4 linked regions of the Homo sapiens genome follow. The protein of the gene in region 2 interacts with the protein of the main gene of each other region in a pairwise test. Each region holds a gene or a part of one and is shown on either strand. Other genes may lie near its edges. The genes, in order: SLC34A2, SLC35A1, ASGR2 and TMPRSS2.

Evidence for each region.
Region 1: the proteins of SLC35A1 (region 2) and SLC34A2 interact in binary tests that used the Homo sapiens proteins (3 or more experiments, as listed by UniProt).
Region 3: the proteins of SLC35A1 (region 2) and ASGR2 interact in binary tests that used the Homo sapiens proteins (3 or more experiments, as listed by UniProt).
Region 4: the proteins of SLC35A1 (region 2) and TMPRSS2 interact in binary tests that used the Homo sapiens proteins (3 or more experiments, as listed by UniProt).

Annotation. Positions count from the first base shown.
Region 1 is NC_000004.12:25,672,851-25,679,275, reverse strand, and holds the end of SLC34A2 (sodium-dependent phosphate transport protein 2B), read right to left. Parts: intron 6,190-6,425; coding exon 6,022-6,189; intron 4,981-6,021; coding exon 4,864-4,980; intron 4,772-4,863; coding exon 4,647-4,771; intron 3,142-4,646; coding exon 2,527-3,141; 3' UTR 528-2,526; downstream 1-527. UniProt on the Homo sapiens protein: Involved in actively transporting phosphate into cells via Na(+) cotransport.
Region 2 is NC_000006.12:87,496,958-87,503,984, reverse strand, and holds part of SLC35A1 (CMP-sialic acid transporter), read right to left. Parts: intron 3,478-7,027; coding exon 3,318-3,477; intron 2,828-3,317; coding exon 2,675-2,827; intron 1-2,674. UniProt on the Homo sapiens protein: Transports CMP-sialic acid from the cytosol into the Golgi apparatus, functioning as an antiporter that exchanges CMP-sialic acid for CMP. Binds both CMP-sialic acid and free CMP, but has higher affinity for free CMP.
Region 3 is NC_000017.11:7,104,801-7,111,827, forward strand, and holds part of ASGR2 (asialoglycoprotein receptor 2), read right to left. Parts: intron 4,089-7,027; coding exon 3,972-4,088; coding exon of another isoform or gene 3,936-3,971; intron 3,758-3,935; coding exon 3,662-3,757; intron 3,108-3,661; coding exon 3,036-3,107; intron 2,518-3,035; coding exon 2,431-2,517; intron 2,352-2,430; coding exon 2,200-2,351; intron 1-2,199. UniProt on the Homo sapiens protein: Mediates the endocytosis of plasma glycoproteins to which the terminal sialic acid residue on their complex carbohydrate moieties has been removed. The receptor recognizes terminal galactose and N-acetylgalactosamine units.
Region 4 is NC_000021.9:41,477,152-41,484,178, forward strand, and holds part of TMPRSS2 (transmembrane protease serine 2), read right to left. Parts: intron 3,452-7,027; coding exon 3,325-3,451; intron 2,132-3,324; coding exon 2,021-2,131; intron 1-2,020. UniProt on the Homo sapiens protein: Plasma membrane-anchored serine protease that cleaves at arginine residues. Participates in proteolytic cascades of relevance for the normal physiologic function of the prostate.

The sequences.
Region 1 (6,425 bases), on a different chromosome or scaffold from region 2:
GTTTGTGTTTGAAATTGGCATTGAACAATATAAAATGACACTTTTCTCCAGGTTTTTGAACAAGAGGCTCCACAAATTATGCAGCTGGAGGGTCAGATGGTAAGTGGTGGGTAGTGACATTCAGTGAAGGAAGAGACCTCACATTTTTTTTTGTTCGTTTTGTTTTGTTTTTTCAAATGTTTATTTTATGTACAAAGAACTATCATGGTTTTTCATTGAGTAGATGACTTGGATAATCCTTTGAAGGAAGATCATTTAGTCCAACTTAATGAAACCGATATCCTTCGCGTACTGACAGAAACATTGGCGGCACTTATTGAGGCCATATTTCCGGATCAGACCGTGCTGGTTTGAATAGACACGACAAGAACGAGAACCCTGGCCGAATTTTTTTGGGTGGCTCCAGTACAGCTGCTGGTGACCCATCTTGCTCCTAGCAGTGCAACGAGGTAAAAGGAGACCTCACATTTTTATAAAATAGATCCAAGGAGGTCCCTATTTCCCTGTAATTAAAAACAACACACTCCTTTTGGGTTTGATGATTTTATTTCTCCCTTCCCATAACCAGTAAAAAAAAAAAAAAAAAAATTACAATCAGGCCTGGTGGTGGCTCACGCCTGTGATCTCAGCACTTTGGGAGGCTGAGGTGGGCGGATTGCTTGATCTCAGGAGTTTGAGACCAGCCTGAGCAACACAGCGAGACCTGGTCTCAAAATTATTATACAATCAATGCAAGTACAAAGATTCAATTTTTAAAAATCACCAGAGTACAAAGACGGCCACAGCCCCTGCCCGGGTTTAACTTACATATATACAGAGTGGGCGGGGCAGGCATGGCCACAGAGGTGGTATTACAAAATATACAAAGTGGTTTCTTTCTTTACATTTCATAGAAGAAGCCTGCCTCATTTCCAAATGAGAGCACTAGAAGCACAAATCATGCAGACCATTTACTATATAACTTATGAAAAATGCTGTACAGGGCTGTGACTATAGATATAGAGTATTTGGCTCTGTTTGGGAATTGATATCTACAAGGGGGAGGGTCAGGGGAGGACTGTCTGATATCCTGACTTGCTGGGATGGTGGAGAAGCTGGGATGGGGGAGGCCCCAATCTTGCTGCACGGCTACACCCACTCCTCCTTTCCTAGATAAGGCTGGAGCGCACTGGCCAGGAAGAATTGGGATGGCTGAGGGTGGGGCGGGGGCAGTGGTGTAATCAGGCAGGAGGCTGTGGAAGGCACAGAGAAGGCATCTAGGATGAGAAGGAACACACCCCTTTGACCCATGCACACACGTGTGCTCGACTGTACTTAATGATCCCAGTTCACTGGGCAGTCCAGTTGGGTACAGCTTTCCCCAAAAATCTGGAGCTTTGCAGGCATGGAGAGAGGACAGCTAATCAAAGCCCATCTGTGGGAAAATGGAAAAATGTTTGGAAAGAGATTCCAGTGGGTGGGTGGATGGAAAGAAGGAAGTTAACCCAGGAAGTCATCTTGCACAGAAAGTAAGGAGGCAGAGAGGGGTGGAGAGCTATTCCAGGTGCAGATACTCCCTGGGATTCAAGGTGGCAGCATGCAGGCTACGAGCCTGGATAACTTGCACGTTTTATTTCAAAAGATCCAACAGGGAGGGCTTTTGTTATCTGACCAAGAGAGGAGCGTTAGACTTTAGCCACAATGCTTTTGAATTGGGCTTCTTAGTTTGCTAAATTAAGAATCTGGGGCCCTTTTGGCAGAATGCTATGCTACTCATTCCTCACTTTCTTCTCCTCCATCTGCCCCACTCTCTGTCTCTTAGGAAGACAAGAGCAGCAGGTGAGCACATGTATCCAGCCTGAACTCTAGTTCAGGCGTGGCTCCCATCCCCGAAGCATGAGGACAAGGAAACTGCAAGTGAACTGCCTGGACTAGCACACCTGTCCACGTGAGGAAGCCCTGATGGGGAATGTGGGGAGCACTAGGAAGTGGGATAGACCCACACCTTGTGGTCTGCAGTTTCCAAACAATGACACTATGTCCCCTGACCCAGGCTGATCTGGGGCAAGGAGGCCATGGAGCTGCTGCTCTTGGTTGCCAGACTTTGGTTTAAAAAAAGGGAGAGGCCTGAGCTTGATAGTCATAGAGAGTACACTTCCTCATCTGGGAGAGCCTCTCATACATTCCTTCCCTGGGCCTTTTCTTTCTGAAGATGGTTTTTGAGTCTGAAAATAGGTTCTACTGACCAACCCAGCTAGGCGCAGGATTAGACATCCGTCCCGCCAGGTTCATTCTCTAATTCTCTTTAGGTACCATCCTGTGCCTTCCTGGAGTAAAAGATTACTGAGTGACCAGGGGTTGGAATAAAAGTGCCCTGCAGGCCTACCACCAAGCCAAAGGGAATCGAGTTAGGTAGGACTGCATCAATTTCATTCGCTAATGGGGAGCAAATCTCCTCGAGGTGGTGAAAGGGTGCAGAAGTGGGAGGGAGGAGAGCATGCAAAACTCAAGGACCATCCCCCCATCCCTGACAATCTGGGGCGTCCCCTACAAGGCCGTGCATTCGGTCTTTGAGTCCGAGGCAGGGACCTCACCCTGAGCCTCTCTGCTAATGGTTATGTTATCAAAGGTCTCAGGAGCCTTGACAGGGACATCCTGCCCCTCCTGCGCCTCCTCCAAGTCCTCGCAGCACTTGCTGCAGCGGCAGCACTTGGGGCAGTCACACAGCAAGCAGCACGCGCGGCAGCACACGCGGCAGCAGCAGCAGCAGCGCATCTGGAAGCAGCCGGTGAACTTGGAGACGACGGCATCCCAGGGCTTCAGCGAGCGCATCCACAGCGGCAGGAAGTTCCAGTTCTGGAGTTTCTTCGGCAGGACGCGTGGGCAGCGAGACTGCAGGAGTCGGAGGCACAGTACCAGGATGATGATGAAGACGACGGGAACCCCGACACCAACCAGCACCCGCCAGCCGGCCAGCGAGAGGCCAAACACCGTCAGCGGGATCAGGAAGAAGAAGATGATCAGGTAGAAGACGGCGAACCAGCGATACTTGGCAGAGATGTTGCCCAGCCCCTTGGCCATGCGGATGGGCAGGCGAGTGAACGGGATCGGGTACCACAGCAAGATGCCGGAGATGTTGAAGAAAAAGTGGCACAGGGCGATCTGCAACACAAGAGGTTGGACAGGTGAGGGGCCTGTTGCCCAATGCGGGTGGCAGTAGGGAGGAGGAGGGGGAGGTAAGCTAGCAGGCATCACAGGCAGCACAGTCTCGGGCCTTCCAGGCCTTCTTTGTCCTTATGGCTCAGCCCAGAGGGTACCTGGATTCCATGAGGACCTACTATGTGTCTGGGAGGGCCAGGAGCACTCAACTGTGCATTATCTCAATTCTCAAAAAACACTCTACAGAGTGGCAACCATTATTTCTTGACATGAGAAAATGGAGGCTCCTCAAGTCCCACAGGTGGGAGATGGAAGAGGTGGAAATTCACATCCTGGGAGCCTGGCTCCAGAGGCCAGGCGCTTGGTCACTTTCCCAAGGTGCCAATTTCCATGCCCAGGCTGTGGACCAGCACTGTCCAATACACTAGCCGCATGTCCACACTGAGATGTGCTTTAAGTATGAAATACACACCAGATTTCAAAGACTCTCAATTTTTGACAGATGACATATTAAAGTGATAATGGTTTAGATCAAATACATTATTGAAGAATGAATCAGCCTGTTTCTACTTTTAAAAATGTATCTACTAAAAAATTTTAGGATGACATATGCGGTTAATTTATATTAGATGCCTGAATTTCTATTTCTGTTGCACAGATGGCTTTGCCTCATCAGATCTTTATAATAATCCTAATGAGATAGGGGTTATGTCCTCCATCTTTCAGATGAGGGAATTGACGCTCAGGTTAGATCACTTGCCAAAGGTCACTTAGTATGTAAATGGTGAGATAAGAATTCAAATCCCCGGCTGGGTGCAGTGGCTCACGCCTGTAATCCCAGCACTTTGGGAGGCCAAGGCAAGCACATCATGAGGTCCAGAGTTCAAGACCAGCCTGGCCAACATAGGGAAACCCCGTCTCTACTAAAAATACAAAAAATCAGCCAGGTGTGGTGGCAGGTGCCTGTAATCCCAGCTGCTCGGGAGGCTGAGGCAGGAAAATCACTTGAACCTGGGAGGTGGAGGTTGCAGTGAGTGGAGATTGTATCACTGCACTCCAGCCTGGGCTACAGTGCGAGACTCTGTCTCAAAAAAATAAAATAAAAATAAATAAATAAATTCAAATCCCAAAGGTCTTGCACAAAGTAACATAGATGGTCCATGCCAAGGAGTTCTCCTAATTGTAAAGTTCCCCATAGGAGGCAGTGAGGAGATGGGAGGTGGTGTCTGTGCTTCCTAAGTACCTTTTCCACATCTATATCAAGGGGCCACCCCACTTTTGCTGAAACAACCACCAGTTATGAGGGTCTTACTGCTTCTCTCAGAACTGATAGTTTTGATTGTTCTCATATCAAGGTCCTGAAAACTTTACCCGTGGCTTCCCCTCCACATATTAGTTCCATATTTTGGATAGTACAGAGAAAAGCCTGGCTCTTGTTAGAGACCAGTTTGCAAGACCATGGGTGGTCCCACTCCCAGGGCCCCTGTCCCCGTGCCCCAAGTCCTGACCTGGAGTGAACTCCTCAATGCATTGCCAGGGCTGGCTAAGGCGGCCAGGATGGCGGTGGTGGTGGTGCCGATGTTGGAGCCCAGCGTGAGTGGATAAGCCCTCTCAATGGTTATCACGCCGATTCCTGGGGGAAACACAAAACACAAACATATCAGCCCCATGGGATGACAGGAAATGGCAGTGGTGGCCAGAGGGAGAAGCCAGGGTGTAACTCACCAATCAGGGGGGTCAAGGCCGACGTGAACACAGAGCTGCTCTGTACGATGAAGGTCATGCCTGCCCCGACGAGGATGGCCAGGTAGCCAGTCAACCATGCAAAGGGAAAGGGGAAATCTGGAAGACAGAAGGAAGAGATGTCATGGCCTCTCCGGGGAAGGTATGGCCTGGTGGCCTGGGGTAGGGGCTGGGCTTAGGGGTGAGGTTGTACATCATCCCATATATGGTCTCAGATTACAGAGTAGAGTTTTAGAATCCAGTTTCATTCCCCATTGTCTTTTGCTCCGCATATTCAGATGGAAAAACCAAGGATACAGGTAAGTGTTATGAAAACAAAAACACAGATTCCCTGGAGGTCAGGTTAGAAAGAGTGAACCCACCCAAGTAACCACTCTCCTTCCAGAAAGTGCTGAGAGCATGCTTCCTCGCCTGCCCTGGTCTCCTGTCAGCACCCACATTTGACCTTCAACCTTCATTTCTGCCTTAAAGAGCATCAAGAAACTGTAGCAGCTTGGAACATGCCTGCCAACTGAGTCCTCCACCCAACTAGCACCGGATCAGGCCCTGCATTTCCCAGAAGCACCCAGAGTTGCTCTGTTCCCCAAGACAATCTGGGGTGGGGGGCGAATTTTCTTGGCTATATTTCACTGAGCTTTCATGAAGTGATGATGTCATTGGCTTAGCGAGCTCTCATTGGCCAGGACACCCTACTTGGCAGGAAATCCTCTTAGCCAGCAGTCTCATTGGCCACCTCTAGATGCTGATGTATTTATGCATCACATTTCCTTTACAAGAGTGAAGGGAGGTGGGGGCGAGGGCAGACACCTGGGGTCCTTTTTCTAAGGGGTCTTGACAGAGCCAGTAAAGCTCTGAGCATACAGGAAACCCGCTAAGAAGGAAGGCCTGACTCACAGCTCTCTAGATATGAACTCCTGCTCAGGACCTTGCCAAGATGCAATGGAAACTTGGGCCTGCTCCCTAGACCCCACCCAGGATGCCAAGAACATTTCCAGGTGAATGACATCCTCACTTCTGGTGCTGATCCAATCTGAGAGAGAAACTCCATGCAGAGGCCATTGCTAGATGGGAATCTAAAGGACCCCCACACCCCATGCAGTGACTACATGTGAGGCCTACAAGTGAGGGCAGTGTACCTACCAGTGTTGATGGTCTTCTTGATGACAGTGGCGACCTGCCCCTTGAGCACAGAGCCCAGGATCTTGACAATCATGATCAGGCAACCACAGAGGACCAGCAGGGAGAGTATGAGCAAGATGGTGCCCACAGCAAGATCCGGGAGGTGGAAATTCACAAAGATATGCTGGCCTGAAAGACCACAAAGAATCTTGTCAGGAGGGCATGGAGCCACCACGGCTACAGATTGTTATTTATTCCCCCAGATCCTGTCTTTCCTACAAACAGATTCCTGGTTGTTAGTTTAACAGATGGCAGCCCCAAATCAAGACAGCCCTTCTCAGCCTCCTTCGCAGCAAGGGGCACCACTGAAACTATGTCATAATCAGTGGGATCGCATGAGGCTGGAAGATGAAGTGATGGCTTTA
Region 2 (7,027 bases):
GATAATGCTAGTATTTAGTGCATTATAAATGATTGCAGCTGTTATTGTTACATTGATTACCAGCAAAATGTTAGAACAGATTTAGAGATGACTTGTACTTAAAAAGCTTAATGGTCATCAGTGGAAAATAGTGTGACTTCACCAAGTGTGAAACATACCAGATTTCCTTACTGAAAGGACTCCTAATGTTAAGTGATGAGGGGAATTCCATAGAGATAATGTTTGGCAAAAAATGTGACAGACTTGCATATTATTGTTATTATTATTATTATTGAAACAGAGTCTCGCACTATCACTCGAGCTGGTGTGCAGTGGCGCGATCTCGGCTCACTGCAACCTCTGCCTCCCAGGTTCAAGCGATTCTCCTGCCTCAGCCTCCTGAGTAGCTAGGATTACAGGCGCCTGCCACCACGCCCAGCTAAGTTTTTGTATTTTTAGTACAGACGGGGTTTCACCATGTTAGCCAGGCTGGTCTCGAACTCCTCACCTGGTGATCTGCGACCAGCCACATAATATTTTTATAGACAACACAGAACTGTAGTGAGGATAAAGGTACAATCCGTAAGTGTGTGAATGCTCATACAGAAAAATGGTAGTTAATTGAACAAAATCAAGCTAGGCCATCAACCAATACCAACTTGCCAGGCATATAGATAAGCCACGTTAGAAACAGATCCTCCAGCCGTAGTCAAGTCTTCAGTTGACTGCAGCCCTAGCCAGTATCTTGACTGCAACCTCAAGCCAGAACCAGCTAGCTAAGGCACCCTCAAATTCCTGACCCATAAAAACTATGAGAGATGATATGTTCAGTAAGCAAGAAAAAGATCAAGCTAGAGAGAATTCTAAAGGTACAGCCACAGAACTCTGGTCCTGTTCTACCTAAAATTTTCATTAAAGACCCAGAAGGCATATTTTTTTTGACTCTGGAAAGCGTAATACCCAAAGGAGAAGCTAATAATGGGTAAGAACTGGAAATAACTCAAGGGGCTGAGCAATGACCCAAAGCTAACAAGAAGAGCTTAATAAATACAAACTCAACCTGCATTCTGGTTTAGAATAAGCCAGAGTTTGAGTTCTAGTGTCAATGAGAGTCTATTCCAGTCCTGACACTTGGAACCCACTTAACCAGTAGTGGAGGAGTGCATGGCAGTGCAGACAGATTGAGGGAACAGTGGGGTGAGAGGGATACAAGATACATTTGAGACAAACTATTTGGGTGACACAGTTACATGTAGTGGTTTATGATCAATTGTAAAATAGATACTTTGCCTGCCCCCCAGAAATTAACAGTCATGTACCACATAATGACATTTCAGTCCATGATGAACCACATATAAAACAGCGGTCCTGTAAGATAAAACTATATTTGTGCCTTTTCTATGTTTAGGTACGCTAAACTTACCACTGTGTTACAACTCGCTACAGTATTCAGCACAGTAACATGCTGCAGAAGTTTGTAGCCTAGGAACAATAGGCTATATACTGTACAGCCTAGATGTGTAGTAAGTAGTCTATACCATCTAGATTTGTGTAAGTATACTCCATGATGTTTGCACAACAGTGAAATCACCTAATGATGCATCTCTCAGAACCCTGAACTTACATTCTTTGTTAAGCGATGCATGACTGTATAACAAGTCTCCGGTATTCAGAACAAAGGGGTAATTACCAAACTGTGCCTCGTATTACTTAGACAACATTGGGAGACAGTGGGGTTTTAGGATATATTGAGAAATAATGACAGATGAATGCATCTAGGAGAAAAATATAAGGAAAAGTGTAGGGGCAGAAGGCAGGGATCAGGAAGTCTGTCTAGAAACCATATTATAGAAAGAAACAGTAGGGTTTTAATTGGGGAAGGAGGGGACCTGGAGGGTGGGGATATGATACTGTTCACAAGCACTGTACATCCCAGCCGCCTTCCATTCCTAAGAGAACCATAGTCTGTTTGCTAAAAGTTAGAGTAAATATTCAACTGTAGGAAACTCCTGACCTTCACAAAACTATTCACTGGCATCCCATTTCCTGTTTCTCTTTGGGGAAATAACTGATTGAGGCATACAATGTAAGAAAAAAAATCATGTATGTATCTTAGCGTTAACTCTTTAAAAATCTGTTATGTACCTTCACATTAACTCTTAAAAACTAAAGATAATTATCAATTATCAGTAAGAACACTCCTTCCCTTGTCATCCTGATCACTGACAGTAGGGAGATGTGCCAGAGACTGACAGTTGAGAGAGAAGATGAAAACTAGATGCAGAAAAACCTTGCCCAGTGTTTCTGAGATGTTTGAAAGAGGTCTAGAAGTTCTAAACATATACAGTATGGAAACTGGCACAGTTGTGGTCACAAGTTAGCTATTAACTAATTTAGGACAAGTTCCTTCACCTCTTTGGGGACTGTCATCCATAAAATGGAGGGGATGGAACACATTATTTCTAAGGTATGTTCCATCTGTAACATATTTTATGCATATTCTCCTCTGAGAAACAACCAATAAGTATTATTATCCCTAATAATATGCTAAAGAAAAAAGGCCTATCTATAAGGCAAAAGTTATTTTAAATCAAAGAAATGTAGTCATGCTGCATGCATCAATGTAACTGAACAGTATAAGACTTAAGGAAGTTTTCTATTTATGGGAAGTTATGGTGTGCATTTTGTTTCTTACCACCACTTTTGTAGCTTGGGCTGGTTTCCACTGTACAAGCGTAACTCCAGCACACAGCATAAAAACTGAAACCCACTGTAATTTGCTGAGTGTCCGGTTTAACATTAAAACAGTGCATAAAGCAGTACACGGAATCTTCAACTGGTAGGTCACCTAAAAAAAAGAGAATGAATTAATAAATTCAGTTAATGTTAGTCTCTGATACAAATATATTATTTCTGGTATCATTGATAAAATTATCAATAAAAAATATTTGATAATGGCCGGGCACGGTGGCTCACACCTGTAATCCCAGAACTTTGGGAGGCCGAGGCGGGTGGTGGATCACGAGGTCTGGAGATCAAGACCATCATGGCCAACATAGTGAAACCTCATCTCTACTAAAAATACAAAAAATTAGCTGGGTGTGGTGGCATGTGCCTATAGTCCCAGCTACGCGGGAGGCTGAGGCAGGAGAATCGCTTGAACCTGGGCGGCGGAGATTGCAGTGAGCTGAGATCACGTCACTGCACTCCAGCCTAGACGAAAGAGCGAGACTCCATCTCAAAAAAAAAAAAAAAATTGATAATATGATAAAGAGTTAATAAAAACTCTTTTTACCATAAAAGATTCTGTGCTTTTCATTATCATTAACTCCACTTACCTGGTACACTGCTGCATCCAGATTGCTAAGAGCTAGGAAAGCCATGTTGTTCTGAACAGCATACACTAACGATGGCACACTTAACTTCAACAGTTCCTTGGGGCTCCCCAAGACATTTTCTCTTAAAGATGCTTTGAATCTACCCAGACTACCAGTTTCTCTTTGAAAACAAAAGGGGGAGATGAGAGGGTGGTAAGGAAGAAAATTAAAGAGTATTATTTTAATAAGACTTCTTCAAACACAGGACAAGCATACTATGCTTGCTGTAATTTAGCAAACTAATAATTTCTAACTAGTTTTAGATTAAAAGAAACATACCAATAATGTATCCTCTTTAAAAAATTATAGTTCTGTTTGGGAAAATATGACAACAACTAGATTTACCACTATCTCTAGTCAAAGCTCTGAGAGATTCTGAGTATATTGAATAATGAGATTAGGAAAACTGTTGATATTACCTATAAAAAAATTCATCCCCTGCTACTTTAACTATTTCATCAAGTTCACCCTGATTACTTTTTAATTGATCAGTTTGCATATCCATTTTTATTTTTATATTTATTTTTGAGATGGAGTCTTGTTGTGTCGCCCCGGCTGGAGTGCAGTGGCGCTATCTCAGCTCACTGCAACCTCCACCTCCCGTGTTCAAGTGATTCTCCTGCCTCAGCCTCCTGAGTACCTAGGATTACAGGCACCCACCACCACACCAAGCTAAATTTTTTGTATTTTTAGTATTGTTGGCCAGGCTGGTTTCAAACTCCTGACCTCAAGTGATCTGCCCGCCTCGGCCTCCCAAAGTACTGGGATTACAGGCGTGAGCCACTGCACCTGGCCTATTTTTAAAGTTTTTTTTAAATTACAATAGATTTAATTGCAAATAAAAAGGCTTTGGTAGTTCGTTAAGTGGGTTAGGAAGAGTCAGGTCAGTATTATTTATAAATGAATTTAGTACTTATGAAATATAGTAGATAATAAATCCTTATGTAAGAATATTCTCATACTTTATATCTGTATAATTCTGTAGCAGATCTGAATAATTTACTAACTCCAACAAAAGTAAACTATATCTCTAATGTACATAAAGTTTACTGTTTGACTGCATATTGATTATGCATGCTCTTAACTATTATTTTTGCTATTATTATTTCAGAAGGACGTGGCTAATCTGGCTTGTATTTCCTGTATCATAAATCAGCTCATTGATTTCCTGAAAGTAAAAATAAAGCAATGTTTTATAATAAGCACCAATACCCCAAAAGAAGTGCTTTATAATAATGGTCCTAACTGCAGCTCACGATATCCTTAAGAAAACCATAATACTTTGTTGGTGAAATAGCTCTGTTCCAACTCAAAGTTTGATAATTACAATGAGATTCTGTATTTTTGGTTAATATATTAGAATCAACAGTTGTGAGTTGAATTTTTTCATTTTTAAATGCTGCAAATATAATTGCCCAAGTTCTGAGAGAAAGCAAAAGTCCATTATATTAAATTGACTAACCTGTGCCTATTTATTTGCTGTAGAACATTCTACCTCCAAGAAAATGCTTAATTAATAAGACAGGAACTTTGACCTAAGCCACAGAAACAAAAGACATCCTTCTTAGTTACAGATCTCTTTGTATTACCAAATCCAAACCCACACCACAGTGTTAAGTCTATATGCTGAAAAGGAACGCACACAGCCTAGTGGTGGACTACAAACTCTATTCGAAAAGCAGAAGAATACCAAAAATACCACAGATTTTCCACCAAAAAATCTATGTAGGAGAGTTTTCCAGGCTTCTGAAGATTGGCTCTTTAAACTAATGTTTGCCTTTTTTTTTAACTGCTTAATGCAAATCTAAGATGCCCCATATACTTTCCTTACATCTTTGTTGTTTTGTTTTGTTTTTTTTGAGACGGAGTCTTTCTCTGTCACCCAACCTGGAGTGCAATGGTGCAATCTCGGCTCACTGCAACCTCCATCTCCCAGGTTCATGGATTCTCCTACCTCAGCCTCCTGAGTAGCTGGGACTACATGCACAGGCCACTACGCCCGGCTTATTTTTGTATTTTTGGTAGAGACGGGGTTTCCATGTTGGCAGGCTGGTCTCAAACTCCTGACCTTAAGTGATCCTCCTGCCTCGGCCTCCCAAAGTGCTGGAATTACAGGCATGAGCCACTGCACCTGGCCAACATCTTAAATAGAGTATAAAGAATAATTTTCAAAATGTTTTCTCCTCAATTATAAAACTGATGAAAAAATTAGAGAAAAAGAGATTAAAATGTAAAATAATCACCTTAATAAGGTGATGTATCAGAGAAGATAACTGAACATTATAATTATCTCTAGTATCATGATAGCATAGATATAAATTTTACAGACTGTATGAAGTGCAAGTTTTAGTGCCCTTCTAAAATGCTGACTCATACACTGATGATGTGTCTTTAAGGTGATACCCAGAAGGAACTGCTGAGAGGTGGCTGTTTGTGCCCATGCTTCACACTCCACCTTCTCCCATATTCATTTATCTCCTGGTGTAAGATTCTTCATGCTAAACCCTCAAAAGCTACAATATAATGGCTATTTATCCTTTCCCTAATCCCCAGCTATGGGCAATGCCACTTTACCTCCACCTGTTAAATATATTATAGCCTTGGTGGGTGTGGTGGCTCACACCTGTATCCCAGCTACTCAGGAGGCTAAGGCAAGAGGATCACTTGAGGCCAGGAGTTGGAGACCAGCCCAAGTAACAGAGGAAAATCCCTTCTCTTAAAAAAAAAAAAAAAACTGCCAGGAGTGGTGGCACATGCCTATCATCCCAGCTACGCAGGAGGCTGAGGTGGGAGCATCACTTGAGCCCAGGAGTTTGAAGCTACAGTGAGCTATGATGCCACCACTGCACTCCAGCCTGGGTGAAAGAGTAAGATACCATCTCTTTTAAAAAAAAGAAAAAAATAAGACATTAGAAGCCTTCACTGGTAACAAACGACCTTTTGACTCTCCAAAAAACAGGGCTGATTCTCTTTGTCCTGTCAGAATATGGGCTACTTAAGGATCCAACTGCTACTCCAAATAATCACGATACCTGCACCAATAAAGGCTGCTGTGGTCCCTTTTCTCCCCACTCTTTTCTTTCTTATCACTTCTCCCTCACTTTTCACATAAAAAGAAGGGCTTATGAAACAAATTAGCAGCCAATCTGAGTATTCCTTTCCTTCAGTGGAGCAAAAAGTAAAGTACAGTGCGTCAGGATTAACCTTCAGATCTGTCTCTTTTGGCCATATCCTTTTTGTTGGATGCTTAGGAGCTATTTTTTCACGGTCAGGATGGCCAAGGTATCTTTTTCTGGTTCCTTCTCTAATGTAGACATTAGAGAAACCAAGGTATACCAGAATGTTAATTGCTGGAAAGTGCAAATATCACTGTAGTACCAAAGATTATAGCAATGTTACATAAGATATTTTGAAATAAGTTACAAAAAAAAACAGAGGATGCTAAAAGAACTAGTAAAAGAGAATAACAGAAAAGTATCAGAAAGTAGAGGAGATTTAGGAGGTATTGGAAAGAATATGTGGGAATCTCACCACACAGAAAGTTTTAAAGAAGAGGGTAAATAATTTCAGTATTAATCAGGTTAAATCCTGCTTAAGTTAATGTATTTATTAAGAATACAGCTCTTAATCTTATATTTAGCTTTACTCACTGAAGTTACATAAAAGTAACA
Region 3 (7,027 bases), on a different chromosome or scaffold from region 2:
CCTGTCTCTACTAAAAAATATAAAAGTTAGCCAGGCACGATGGCGGGTGCCTGTAATCTCAGCTACTCGGGATACTAAGACAGGAGAATTGCTTGAACCTGGGAGGCAGAGGTTGCAGTGAGCCAAGATCGCGCCATTGCACTCCAGCCTGGGCGACAGAGCAAGACTCCATCTCAAAAAAAAAAAAAATTTTTTTTTTTTTTCAGATACAACACTTAAGGAACCTAGGAAAGGAAAGACTCAGACACATGGGAATAAGAGGTATCCTGGTCTCCTCACCTTTCCTATGGAAGTTATACAAACTTTTAGTTTTCAAAGCCAATAATTTTCAGCCTATTATTTAAAGTTATACAAGTAATCACTGGAATAACTCTAAATAAACTACATAGTTTCCAAAATACCATAAAGAAGAAAACAAAAAGAACACCTCTCACATAGCAATTGTAAGAAAATTAAGAAGCATGTAAAGCAGAAAAAAGAAAGGACTAGGGTTAAACATATCTATTAGAATGTAAATGAGACACTCACCTATTAAAAGAAAAGGTACTTATTAGATTTTTAAACATCAAAAACAAAACCTGCCAGGTGCAGTTTTTGGATTACAGTGGCTCAGACACCTGTAATCCCAATATTTTGGGAGGCCCAGGCGGGCGAATCGCTTGAGGCCAGGGGTTCAAGACCAGCCTGGGCAACATGGCACAACACCATTTCTACTAAAAATGCAAAAAACTACCCAGGTATGGTGGTGTGCACCTGTAGTCCCAGCTACTTGGGAGGCTGAGGTGGGAGAATCCGTTGAGCCCGGGAGGCACAGGTTACAGTGAGCTGAGATCATGCCACTGCACTCCAACCTGGGCGATAGAGCCAGATCTTGTATCAAAAACAAAACAAAACAAAAAACCTATATAGGAGAAATACCTTAAGCTTAGCTGCCCTGTGCTGCCCCTCAGGGAATGGTCCAGGATGAAGCCAAGATTAATTTAAATTAGCATTTTTTTTTTTTTTTGAGTCAGAGTCTCGCACTGTCACCCGGGCTGGAGTATAATGGCGCAGTCTCAGCTCACCACAACCTCTGCCTCCCGGGTTCAAGTGATTCTCCTGCCTCAGCCTCCTGAGTAGCTGGGATTACAGGCACCCGCCACCATGCCCGGCTAATTTTTGTATGTTTAGTACAGATAGGGTTTCACCATTTTGGCCAGGCTGGTCTCGAACTCCTGACTTCATGATCCGCCCACCTCGGCCTCCCAAAGTGCTGGGATTACAGGCGTGAGCCACTGCACCCGGCCTAAATCAGCATTTTTAAGGGCGAGATCCAGGAGTCGATATATTTTTTTTAACTCTTGAAGAGATTGCAATGTACAGTCAAGACTGAGAATCATTAATTTAAAACAGAGATTCAAAAAGGTAAGAAACAAAAGGATGGACAGAGATACAGCAAGCAAATGCAAGTGACAAAAAAATCAAGGACCGTGGTATTTATATATCAGATAAATTCAAGGCAAAAAGCATTAACTGGGACACACGTTGGCTTCATAGTGACGAAAGCACCGTCCACCACGAAGTTGTAGTGGTCATGAGCTTATTGTGTGCCAAATCACAGAGCACTGAGATCTTAGGTTGAACTGCATGAAACTGACATTTTTATAGGTCAAAACTGATGAAATGTTGGCAAGTTCAACCTGATCAGTAAAGCAAAATATGTTCGTACTCACAGTATGCTGTAAAGTACTAACAGAGCCTGATGTAATGCAAACAATACATATATTCTGGCCCCTGTATCATATGGCTTAACTACTGTGGCATTAAAATACTTTGAAGTTCAGCCAGACGCGGTGGTTCACGCCTGTAATCCCACCACTTTGGGAGGCGGAGGTGGGCGGATCATGAGGTCAGGAGTTCCAGACCAGCCTGGCTAAGACGGTGAAACCCCGTCTCTACTAAAAATACAAAAAAATTAGCCGGGCATGGTGGCACGTGCCTGTAATCCCAGCACTTTGGGAGGCCGAGGCAGGAGAATGGCGTGAACCCAGAAGGCGGAGCTTGCAGTGAGCCGAGATCGTGCCACTGCACTCCAGCTTGGGCGACAGAGCGAGACTCCATCTCAAAAAAAAAAAAAAAATGGATAAAATAAGCCTGATCCAGCCTCCCAGAGCAGGCCTTCCAAGGGCTTCCTCCTGCCTGTGGGAAGCGTGGCCTCACCTGCTCCTCCCAGGAGTTGATGACCACCAGGTGTGCGTTCTCCAGCTGGCAGTACTTCTCCGCCTCAGCCCAGGCCTTCCCGGAGTGAGAGAACCAGTAGCAGCTGCCTTGGTGCTCCACCCAGTTGACGGGGCAGCAGGTCCTTTGGGAGCCTGAGGGGACAGGGGGCAGGGAGATGAGATCCAGCCGGAGGGGCAGGCACACTGGGCCTGGAGACGGCCCCACCCCTACCGTTGCTGTGGAGGAGCTCCATCTGGCAGGCCACGAAGCGCAGGTCCACGGGGAAGTGCTTCAGATGGAAGAGCAGGGCATCGTGATCTAGGACAGACAGGCTGAAAGTGCTGCCGGCAGGTGTGGTCCCCACCTGCTAGGCTCCAGCCTGTGGCTGGGGAAGCATATACACCCACAGACACGTACACCATGCATAGACCACACCACACACCATACCACACACACACCACAGACATGTACACCACACATAGACCACACCACACACAGATCCATCACACACACACAAACACACCAAGAGACACACCACACACATCACATGCGTACACACACATATACCATACCGCACACACACAGACTCATCTCACACACACCACCACACATGCATACACACACAACACACACATATACACCACACTACACACCACACACAGATCCATGACATATCACACCACACATACGGAGAGAGACACAGATACACATGCTTGCAGGCACACACACGCACGCACGCACACGTGCACACTACACACACCGCACACGTACACACTACACACACCGCACACGTACACATGCACGCACATGCGCACACACCCCGGAGGCTCTCTGACCTGCTTTCAGGTCCTGCTGCTGTTTCTCCAGCTTGGCTCCTAGGGATGTGATCTTGTCACCCACGCTGCCTCCTGGAAGCGGAAAGCCAGCTGTTTCCCCGCTGAGCCTCCCTCCGTCCTCATGCTGCTGGGGGACCGGGGGCCAGCGCCTCGTCCTGGGCGATGCAGGCGTCCACCTCCTGGCTTCCTGGACCACACCCAGGCTCCCTGCACTGCCACAGTGGCTCAGGCCACTCTCCTGCTTCAGTCCCTTCAATGGGTCCCCATTTTCTCAAAATAAAGCCTCGCTCTGTCAGCACGGCTCACCTGCGTGGCCGGGCCCCTCCCCACCTCTCTCTGGCCACCCCTTACCTGCCTGCCCCTCCGATGGGCCTGCCACACTCGATTTGCTCACAGGCCCAAGACATGGTGCCTTCCTCACCTCCGGGTGTCGCAGATCCAACCTCTCCACCTGGCACTAACCTCGTCCGTCCCCACCTGCCTCCCTCCTATACATCCCCCAGGGCCCCTGGACGCCTTGCCCAGCCTGCACCCCCACGGCACCCCACACAGCCCTGTTGCAGACTCGGCACTGAGCCCAGCAAACCTGTGCGGATAAATGAGAACCCAGCCGTCCAGCCCCTCACCGTGGGTGCTGATTGCCTGGACCTCCGTCAGGGTGCTCGAGGAGAAGTTGCTGAAAGCTTCCTTCAGGCTCCGCAGCTCGGCTTGCAGCTGTGCACCTTGTCAGGTGGTAGTGGGGGCAGGATGAGGCAGAGGGGCCGTGTCCCCATCACTGTCCATGTGACTGGCCCCTCAATGTCCCCGCATTTGCCCCAGCTTGTGCTCCACCCCGCCTCCATCCCTTCCCCTCCCATCGCCCCGATCGCTGCCCGCCACTGCCCATGTCTCTTTCCCTACCCCTTGCCCATCCCTGCTGGCCCCCGTGACCCTCACTTTGGGACCCAGTCACACAGATGACCACCAGCAGCAGGATGTTGAAGCTCAGGGCAAGCAGACTGAAGCAGACCATGGAGCAGAGACGCTGTGCCAGGGGCTGGGCAGGAGGTGGCCCTGTGGGAGAGGGGCATCAGGAGCCGGCAGCCTGGGTGTGGGGAGCCGGAGGGTAAAGACAGGGCACCGAAGCCTGAGGAGGCATAACCTGGGCGGGGGGATTGGTTGGGGCCATGGGGGGGGGTCATCATAGGCTTTGACCCCAGCATTTGAGCATTACACACACACTCTTACACACTCGCACCCATATTACCATGTATAAATATACACACGCAGCTAATCTGGTGCACACACACCCATGCACACGACTCAGGATATTCACATCAGCTGTGTGCAAAGCCCGGATCCTGGAGCTGGGGGACTGGGAGACGCACAGGGGGCGGGGGGGCAGACCCGGCCCTGCCTAGGCACACATCCTGAGAAGGGGGATCTGTGAATGGTTTTCCTCCCATCCAGCCAGTGGCAGAGGCCTCCAGATCACCTCGGGCCTTAGTCTCAGCTCTTCTAAGGCTCCTGTCCCCTCAGATTGGAGACTCCAGAAGCTGGGCCCTGTGTTCTTCCTAAAATCCATACTGGAACAGTCCCTCCCCTGCCAAAATTCCATTGAGATCCTTAAATCTGGGTCATTCCACCATAGCCCACTCTCCAAGCACAACCCTCCAGGTCCCACCTGTTGTCCTCATCCCCCACCACGCAAGGCCTCCTCCCCAGCGCCCTTTGCCCTCGCTTCCCTAGAAACCTCGTTCCACACTAAATTTGCTCCCCTCAGCCCGAGGTCATCTCACAGGTACCTCTCCTGCCCCTTGATCCATCTGCACCCTGACAGCACTGACACACACATTCACATGCCCTCACAAACTCACACACACTCACACACTCACACATTGCTCACTTCACTCAAAAACACACATTTGCACACACTCATGACCACGCTCTGCTGTACCCACTCTCACATGTGCATATGCATGCTAATGCACACATTCATACTCCCTCCCACACACACACACCTGACACACCCACACACGTACACTCACACACCCACGTCTTCCTGCACACAGAGCTGGGCTCCCTCTCTGCTGCCTCCAGACCCAGAGCAGCTCCAGTTGTCCCAGCCCTGAGCTCCTCTCTTTGCAGCATCCACCTGCAAACAGAACACCTTCTAGGCCTTGGACCCTGACTCTGTGGACTTCCTTGTCTTCTCATTCCTATCACCCCCCGACCCAGCAGGACCACATCCTGGGGAGGCTCAGTCAGGGGCCCAGAATCTTCCTCCCCAGGTCACTTCCTGCCACTGTCCTGAGTCAGACACTGCCCCTGTAAGTGACTGTCCATAACTCTTCATCTTTTTCACACCAGTGACTTCCACCTTCCCCACTGCAGCCACACTCAGGACCCCATTTGACCCAGGGAGGCCTCTGACACCTCCACTGCCCACTCCCGCTCTGAGCACAGCCCCACCCTCCCTCTCACTGCCCCCACCCCTTCCTCCAAGGCCTTTGCATTCCTCTCCATCCAGAAGCGCTCCATGACCACGGTGTTCCCCACCAAGCTGGCCCTCCATGGCTGAGTCCCTGACTGCTGTCTTCAGCACCCTCCACTCAGAGGGTCCTGTCCTGCTTCCCAGTCCGACTTATCAACTCCCAATGCTGGGTCAGCCCAGCAACGTGTCTGTATATCCACCCTGAAACCAGACTGCCCACAGGGTAGCCCAGCTGTGCCTCCAGGTAGCTCTGAGATCATGCACCAGCATTCAATTTCTCCATGCTTCCATTTTCTCGTGTGTAAAATGGAGATCACAGTCGTAGCTACCCGATTGGATTGCTCGGATAATTAGATGAGTTAAAATATGTAATGTGCTTCTTAGGCAAAAGTTTGAACATAAAAGACAGGGTCTGCCCAAGATGGGAAGAGTTCTTCTCTCCCCAGAAACAATCAAAACAAAAACAGACAACTATAGAACATGGCAGCTTTCAAGACTCTGGACATCAGGCAAGGAGGAGTAAAGATCCCTGAGGGATAAGAAGCAAACAACAGGAACCCTCCGATCACCCCAGCTTACTGTTTGGAGAGAGTCTGCAGGTTACAGGCCAGGAAAGGGAAGTCCAGGCAGAGCCCAAGAGACTCCCCACGTTGAGGAGATGGAGCTGAGAGTCCGAGGAGACCAAAACAATTAAGAGTTCAAACGATCAAACTGACTCTAAGTTGCTTAACTGCATCCCGGAGCAAAGCTCAAGAACATTTAGAGGAATACAAAAATATCCAGCACCCAACAAGGTGAAATTGACAATGTCTGGCAGCCAATCAAAGATTACAAGGCATGCAATGAAACGGGAAAACACAATGCATAACGAGGAGGTTCATAAATATCAAAAGAGATCCAGAACTGACACGGATGCTAGAATTAGCAGGCAAGGATGGTAAAACAGATATTATAGCCATATCCCATTATGTTCAAAAAATTAAGTAGAATTGTGGAGGATATTTAAGAGTCCCCAGGTGAACTTCTAGAGATAAAAACTACAATGTCTGAAATGAAAAAACACACTGGCCAGGCGCCGTGGCTCACGCCTGGAATCCCAGCACTGTGGGAGGCCAAGGCGGGCAGATCATGAGGTCAGGAGATCGACACCATCCTGGCTAACATGGTGAAACCCCATCTCTACTAAAAATACAAAAAATTAGCCAGACGTGGTGGCAGGCGCCTGTAGTCCCAGCTACTCGGGAGGCTGAGGCAGGAGAATGGCATGAACCCGGGAGGCAGAGCTTGCAGTGAGCCAAGATCGCGCCACTGCACTCCGGCCTGGGCAACAGAGCGAGACTCCGCCTCCAAAAAAAAAAAAAAGAAAAGAAAGAAAAGAAAAAACACACTGGATGGAAATAATGGAAGATGAGAAATGCGTAAGAAAAATTTAGGGCCAGGCACTGTGGATCACATCTGTAATCCCAGCACTTTGGGAGGTCGACACGGGGGGAATCACTTGAGCCCAGGAGCTCAAGAC
Region 4 (7,027 bases), on a different chromosome or scaffold from region 2:
CAGGCTATGCTGAGAAGGGAAGACGCGGCCCCTGGCATGCAGAGCTGGCCCGCCCTGATAGCTGGGCCGTGTGCTCTGCGGAACCTGAATTATTTCACTGAGCGTCAATATCGGACTAGGCCCCTCCATGCCTGAGATGGGGCAAGACACAAGGAGCCTCCTCCGAAATGATGTCTGAACAGACAGAACAGGAACCTTGTGCTCACAACCACAAAATCACGATCTGATGTCTCCTCCTGTCCTGGCTAACTTGAGCGACGGACGTTTCTTTACCAATCACAGCTTTAGCCTAGCCTCATTCCAACCTCCTCCTAGAAAAAAAATAATAAAGCAGCCTCACAGAATTACCCCTGCTTCCTGACAGCATCCAATCCAGAGCAAATCTCTGCTTCCTCCAACCACCCCCAAACCACCTTGCAGGAGCCCAGGCCCTACAATAATAGGTCCTTCCTGACACCTTCTTACTAAGGCACACCCCCCGGGTTCTCAGTGACTACAGGTGCATTCCAGGTGGACTCTGGCTCTGGGGCACTGACACGGCCAAGTGAAGACATGTCCCCTTTAAGAGAAGACATTTCCTAAGAATCCTAAGGTCGGTAGGGATAGCCCTGTGTGGTCACAGCGCCAGGGCACATGTGGTTATTCACAGAAGCCCGACAGAAAACAAGCCAAGAACTCAGGCATCAAAGGGCAACTGCTGCACAGAAAGAGGAAAAGAAGTGCGCCTCCCCCCACCACCACCACCGAGATAGAATAGAGCCTACCAGACAATGGCCTTCTCTTCTTTCTTCCAAGCCCTCCAGCCTCCTTGTGAGTTCCCAAGGCTCTTGCCAAGGGACGGCAGCACCTCCTCCCCTCCCCCCGTCCCTGCCCGGCTGGACTTGGCTCCCTGATTCCGTGTGTAACCCAGAAAGACAAAGAACCACTCAGCATTTACAAAGTGCCCAGGCAGCTGTGTTTAGCTTCTCCACAGGGACAAACCGCAGCCCTGCTGTTTTGATGGGTGCACCTGGCCGTGCACAGCCCTCCCCACTGGGCTTGCCCTGCCACATTCCCCAGGACAGCAGGCTGCAGTGGAAGTCAGGCCCCCAGACCCCTCCACCAGCGGCCTCCAGGAATGCAAACCTGCCCCAGGCTCCCACTCAGAGGAAAGGTGGCGCGGGGTGATTAGTTCATCCTCCCCCGAAATGCAGCACCTGGCACCTGGCAGGCAGGGAGGTGATGCCTAGACACCAGGCATAAGCCCTGGGGACCTGGGAGGCAAGGAGAGCTCATGGGCAAAGGACACTGTGTATCTTTCACATCAGAAAACACATAACAGCAACAATCATAGCAAGTCTGCAAACATCCTAAATATGTGCAAAGCAAAAGGAAGAGCCTAAGTCCATCCCCTCTTCTGCCCTCCCAGCCAGGTCAGCCACTCATCATGTGACCTGTGGCTTGTACCCACTTCTACCCCCTGGAAACACCACAACTCATTCCCAGGCCGCCAGAATGCTGCCCATCCCTCACAGAGCACCCTCTGGCACTGCTGTCCCGGGGTTGGGGCTAACGGGACCAGCCAGCCCAGCTGCCTGGAATGGAGCAGGACTTCCCTTGCTCAAGCCAGTGAAGTCCCTGGCAAACTGGAATGAGCCGGTCACCCTGGCTGGGACACTGAGACATTATCTTGGATTCCTAGAACCACGCCCTGACAAAATAGGTACACCTCTAAATGTCTGAAGAGGAAAGAAAACTAAATAGAGTTGAATGTCGATGTTGCAAGTGTGAGCCGCTACCAACAAGGGCAGACGGTAGAGGCTGAAAATGAAATAGCAGAGAAACCTCAGCCACTTCCTATGAATAAACCAAGGGCTGCTTAGAGTAACCAGGCCTGGTCAGACTCTAATCTCCTCCCAATGCAAAACCCATCCAGACCGAGTATTGCAGCTCAGAGAAATCAGACTCAGGACAACGATTCCCCATGGTGTCTCCTAGTTGATTTCATTCCAAAATTTTTCAAGAAGAAATTGCTGCATACCTGTGGTACAGTTTTTTATAGATATCGACATTGCCGGCACTTGTGTTCAGTTTCATAAAGCTGGTGGATCCGCTGTCATCCACTATTCCTTGGCTAGAGTAAAAATTATTCCTAAAAAAGAAAACCTTATTTGTGATAATGGTTAAGGCATAAGCAAACACAAATCCTATACTATGTCATAATACCGCTCATACGACATTCAGAATAAGAGGGAAAAACCTTAGCATTTAGGAAAAAAAATCACACGTTCTAACCAAGTGCTAGAATATTGTAACGATTTTTCGATTCAATAACCCTAAAGTGTCAGACAAAATTCCTTCATTGGTCGTGTTTCTTATCCAGGTTAGGATCAAGAAACTATGAGAAGGACATAGGATTGTATAATCATACACACATTTAATCTAATAAAAGGTACAGATGTTAACATGGCCCCAGTTATCAATTCCACCAGGTTCCTGGACTGTGATGGGGGGGCTTTGCTGTGTAATTCACCCCTGCTGTTTAGGGATGTCACAGTGACTAGCTAAGATGCCAACTTTCTCACCGAGTGGTAATTCATTCTGAAAACTGGCATATTGAATACCCTAAAGTTGCATAGAAATCACCTGGGGACCCTCCCATGGAAAACAAAGTGGCAGTAGCATCCTACCACCCTCTCCCCCGATGCCTGAGGGCTGCCGCATCTCCCCAGGCAGTGCTGGTAAATGGTAACCACCGCCCCACCCCCGTTAGGAATCACTGTCAGGCGACACACACCCTGTTAAGCCTTCCCACCTTCCCTCAGAGCTACGAGCAGGAATGACATTTTTTAAGTATCAGTCTGATTGATTGATTCTCTCCCCAGCTCAAAAGGCTTCCATGGCTCCCGAATGAAGTGAAACTGGCACAGGATTTGTCTCTGCTGCTCTCCCCAGCCCAACCCTCCTCGCCAGCTGTTCTGGTCCAACCTCTACCCAGGGAGGTGAATGGACCCTGGCTGAGAGGCACCTTGGAAAAAGAGGCACCTAACGCCCTCAGCCTACCCCTCTGACCAGATGACCACAGCACTGGGCACTCCCGAGCAACCAGGAGTCTATAGAGGCCAAGGAGGAGGCAGGGCAAGGTGGCAGTGAGCCAAGGTCTGTGTGCTGGGCACAGCCCTAGCAGGACAAATTCCACCTGCTGGTTATAGGGCTCAGCTTTTGGAAGGTGACAATTGTCCCCAGCACTCATGTGCCGGTGCTTTCACAGGGAGGCAGAGAGAGGGTCTTCTCGTGTTTCTGCTGTCTGTTACTGTCACTCGGCGGGTGCTGCCCCATACTCACTTATAGCCCATGTCCCTGCAGGCCGCCCGCCCGTAGTTCTCGTTCCAGTCGTCTTGGCACACAGGGTGCCAGGACTTCCTCTGAGATGAGTACACCTGAAGGATGAAGTTTGGTCCGTAGAGGCGAACTGCACGAGAGGGAGGATTATCCATGAGTTTCTTTCTTTTTTTTTCTTTTTTTTGAGACGGAGTCTCGCTCTGTCACCTAGGCTGAAGTGCAGTGGTCTGATCTCCACTCACTGCAGCCTCCGCCTCCCAGGTTCAAGTGATTCTCCTGCCTCAGCCTCCCGAGTAGCTGGGATTACAGGCGTCCACCACCCCGTCCAGTTAATTTTTCTGTTTTATTAGAGATGGGGTTTCACCATGTTGGCCAGGCTGGTCTTGAACTCCTGACCTCAGGTGATCCCCCTGCCTCGGTCTCCCAAAGTGTTGGAATTACAGGCGTGAGCCATTGCACCTGGCCTTGTCCCAACTTGTATCGTCCTAGCTGCTACCCAAGCCCCGCGCTCTCCACGGCTCCGGAGGTGGCAGCACAGTTCACTCTTCTCAAGGCACTGACCGCACACAAAGGGAGGCCACAAATCTATTCTTTTTCTGCTAAAAAGTGCTCTCTACACAAGAGAATTGAAAACAGGCATTGGGTCCAAAACTTGTACAAATGTTCACTGCAACCCTCTTAAAACAGCTGAAAGGCGAAAACACTCCAAACGCCCACCAACGGCTGGGTGAGCAGAATAGGATATGTCCAAGATACACAATGGAATACGATTCAGCCAGAAGAGGGAATGAAATTCAGACACAGGCTGCAACCTGGATGAGTGCTGAAGACCTTATGCTCAGTGAAAGGAGCCGGACATACTGCATGAGCCGACTCACATGGAATGCCACTTATATTGTGTGAGCCCACGTATTGCATGATCCCGCTCACATGGAATGCCTAGAGTAGGAAATCTATAGACACTAAGTAGATTAGTGGTTGCTTATGAGTAGGAGGGACGGGCTGGGAGGAGGGATATGGGGTGATAGTTCAAGGGCTTGGGGTTTCTTTATGAGCTGATGAAAATATGCTAAAATTGACTGTGGTGATAGTTGCACATATTCGTGAATATATAAAAGCCAGTGAATTATATATTTAAATTTTATGGTACATACATTACATATCAATAAGCTGTTTTATATAAAAAATTATATCTCAATAAGCTATTTCATATATATGTTTTATATATAAAAGCACTGAATTATATACTTGAATTTTATGGTACATAAATTAGATCTCAATAAGCTGTTTTTAAAAATATATAAGATAAGCCAGGCATGGTAGCTCACGCCTGTAATACCAGCACTTTGGGAGGCCAAGGCGGGCAGATCACCTGAGGTCAGGCGTTTGAGATCAGCCTGGCCAACATGGAGAAACCGATCTCTACTAAAATGCAAAAATTAGCCAAGTGTGGTGGCACGCATCTGTAATCCCACCTACTTGGGAGGCTGAGGCAGGGGAATTGCTTGAACCCAGGAGGTAAAGGTTGCAGTGAGCTGAGATCACACCACTCCACTCCAGCCTGGGTGACAGAGCAAAACTCCGTCTCAATAAATAAATAAATAAATAATAAGATAAAAGGTTTTTTTTTTTAAAGTGCTCTTTAAGAGAGCACTTTGAGCAACAAATTGTCCAGGAGACTCTAAATCAACATTCTGCTGAAATGATCTCAGCTCTTTTATTTAAAGAAACAAAACATTACAAACACCGTTGAAGTCGCTCCCTATTCCCAATCTCTTCTCTCCCTCCCTAGAGGTAACCACCATCCAGAGTTTTGGGGACTTTTTGCTGGGCAGGATAATACATGGGGTGGGCGTATTCACAGAACAGAATCCCATGCAGCTTAAGGGTTAAGCAGAGCATCATGAACAGGAAGAAGCTTGAAAACAGCGCTGTGGGAAAGAGAGCAAGTGATAAATGATGCGTTCAAGTATCACGTTATTCATGCAAAGCTGAAAGCATGGAAACAATGCTGTGTGGTTTGGGAGAAATACACATGGGCTTAAAGTATAAAGTGAGGACCTGGCTATGCTCTAGCCTCTCTTCTTACTTCCTACGAGTGGCCCTGACTCACTGGACAGTCTGGTACCTGTGGGCTTGTTCCCCCATGAAATGACTTGGGTCTGATTATTGTCTAATGCCTCTGTGGTGAGTGATTCCACATCCTATCTGTGAGTCGGTCACAGGTTACATGAATGGATAAACATTGTGCTACATCTGGACAACGGAATATTATTTGGTGCTAAAAAGAAATGAGCTATCAAGCCATGAAAAGGCATGGAGGAAACTTGAATGCATATTACTAAGTAAAGGAAGCCAACAAAGTGAAGGAAGGTGTATGTGGTGAAGGCTACATACTCCATGATTCCAACGCTACAACATCCTGAAAAGACCAAAACTTCGGAGGCACTAAGAAGATCAGATAGCTGGGGTGAGTGGGGAGAGAGAAACAGGTGCAGCAAAAGAGGTTTTAAGGCAGGAGAACTACTCTGGACGATACTATCATTGTGGCTGTACAGCATTATGCATTTGTCAAATCCCACAGAACTGTACAAGAGAAAGGGTGAAGTCCAGGACTTCAGTTCATCATAATGTATGCATCAGGTTCATCGGTGTTAATGAACGCACAGCACTGATGTGGGATGTTCATAACAGGGCAACTGTGTGCTGGGGAGGAGTACAAGGAGCTCGCTGCCCTGTCTGTTTCATTTTCTGTAAACCTAAAACCGCTCTAAAATATAAAGTCTGTTCACTTTTTTAAAAGTAACTGAAATGAATACACTTCTTCTTCTTCTTCTTTTTTTTTCTTGTTCCCAGGCTGGAGTGCAATGGCATGATCTCAGCTCACCGCAACCTCCACCTCCTGGGTTCAAGAGATTCTCCTGACTCAGCCTCATGAGTAGCTGGGATTACAGGCATGCACCACCACGCCGGCTAATTTTGTATTTTTAGTAGAGACGGGGTTTCTCCATGTTGGTCAGGCTGGTCTCGAACTCCTGACCTCAGGCGATCCCCACCCCCTCCGCCCCCCACCTCGGCCTCCCAAAGTGCGGGGATTACAGGCGTGAGCCAGCACACCCGGCTCAAAATACACTTCTATGATTAAAAACAAAACTGCCACTGTGGCTCAAAGGGAGACACTTCATTCTTGGCTTGTGGGTAATTTTAGGGATTTTCTTTCCCTTCCAGCTATCTGCACCCGGAAGAGACGGCAGCTGATAAGCCAGAGAGCTGGAAAAGGTCTCAAGCTAGTCCTTTTTTTTTTTTTTTTAAATATTAGGATTTTTTTTCTCAGCTTTGTCAAAGTATAGTTGACAAATAAAAATTTTACATGTAGGCCTGGTGCTGTGGTTCATGCCTGTAATCTCAGCACTTTGGAAGGGCAAGGCGGGAGGATCACTTGAGCCCAGAGTTCGAGACCAACCCCATCTCCACCAAAAAATATAAATATATATGCATTAGCCTGGCATGATGGTACATGCCTGTGGCCCCAGCTTTTCAGGAGGCTGAGGGGGAAGGATGGATTGAGCCCAGGAGGTCGAGGCTGCAATGAGCCATGACTGAGCCACTGCACTCCAGACTGGGTGACAGAAGGAGACCTTGTCTCAAAAAAACCCAATTGTACATGTTTAATGTGTACAGCGTGATGACTGGATATCCGCTGTGA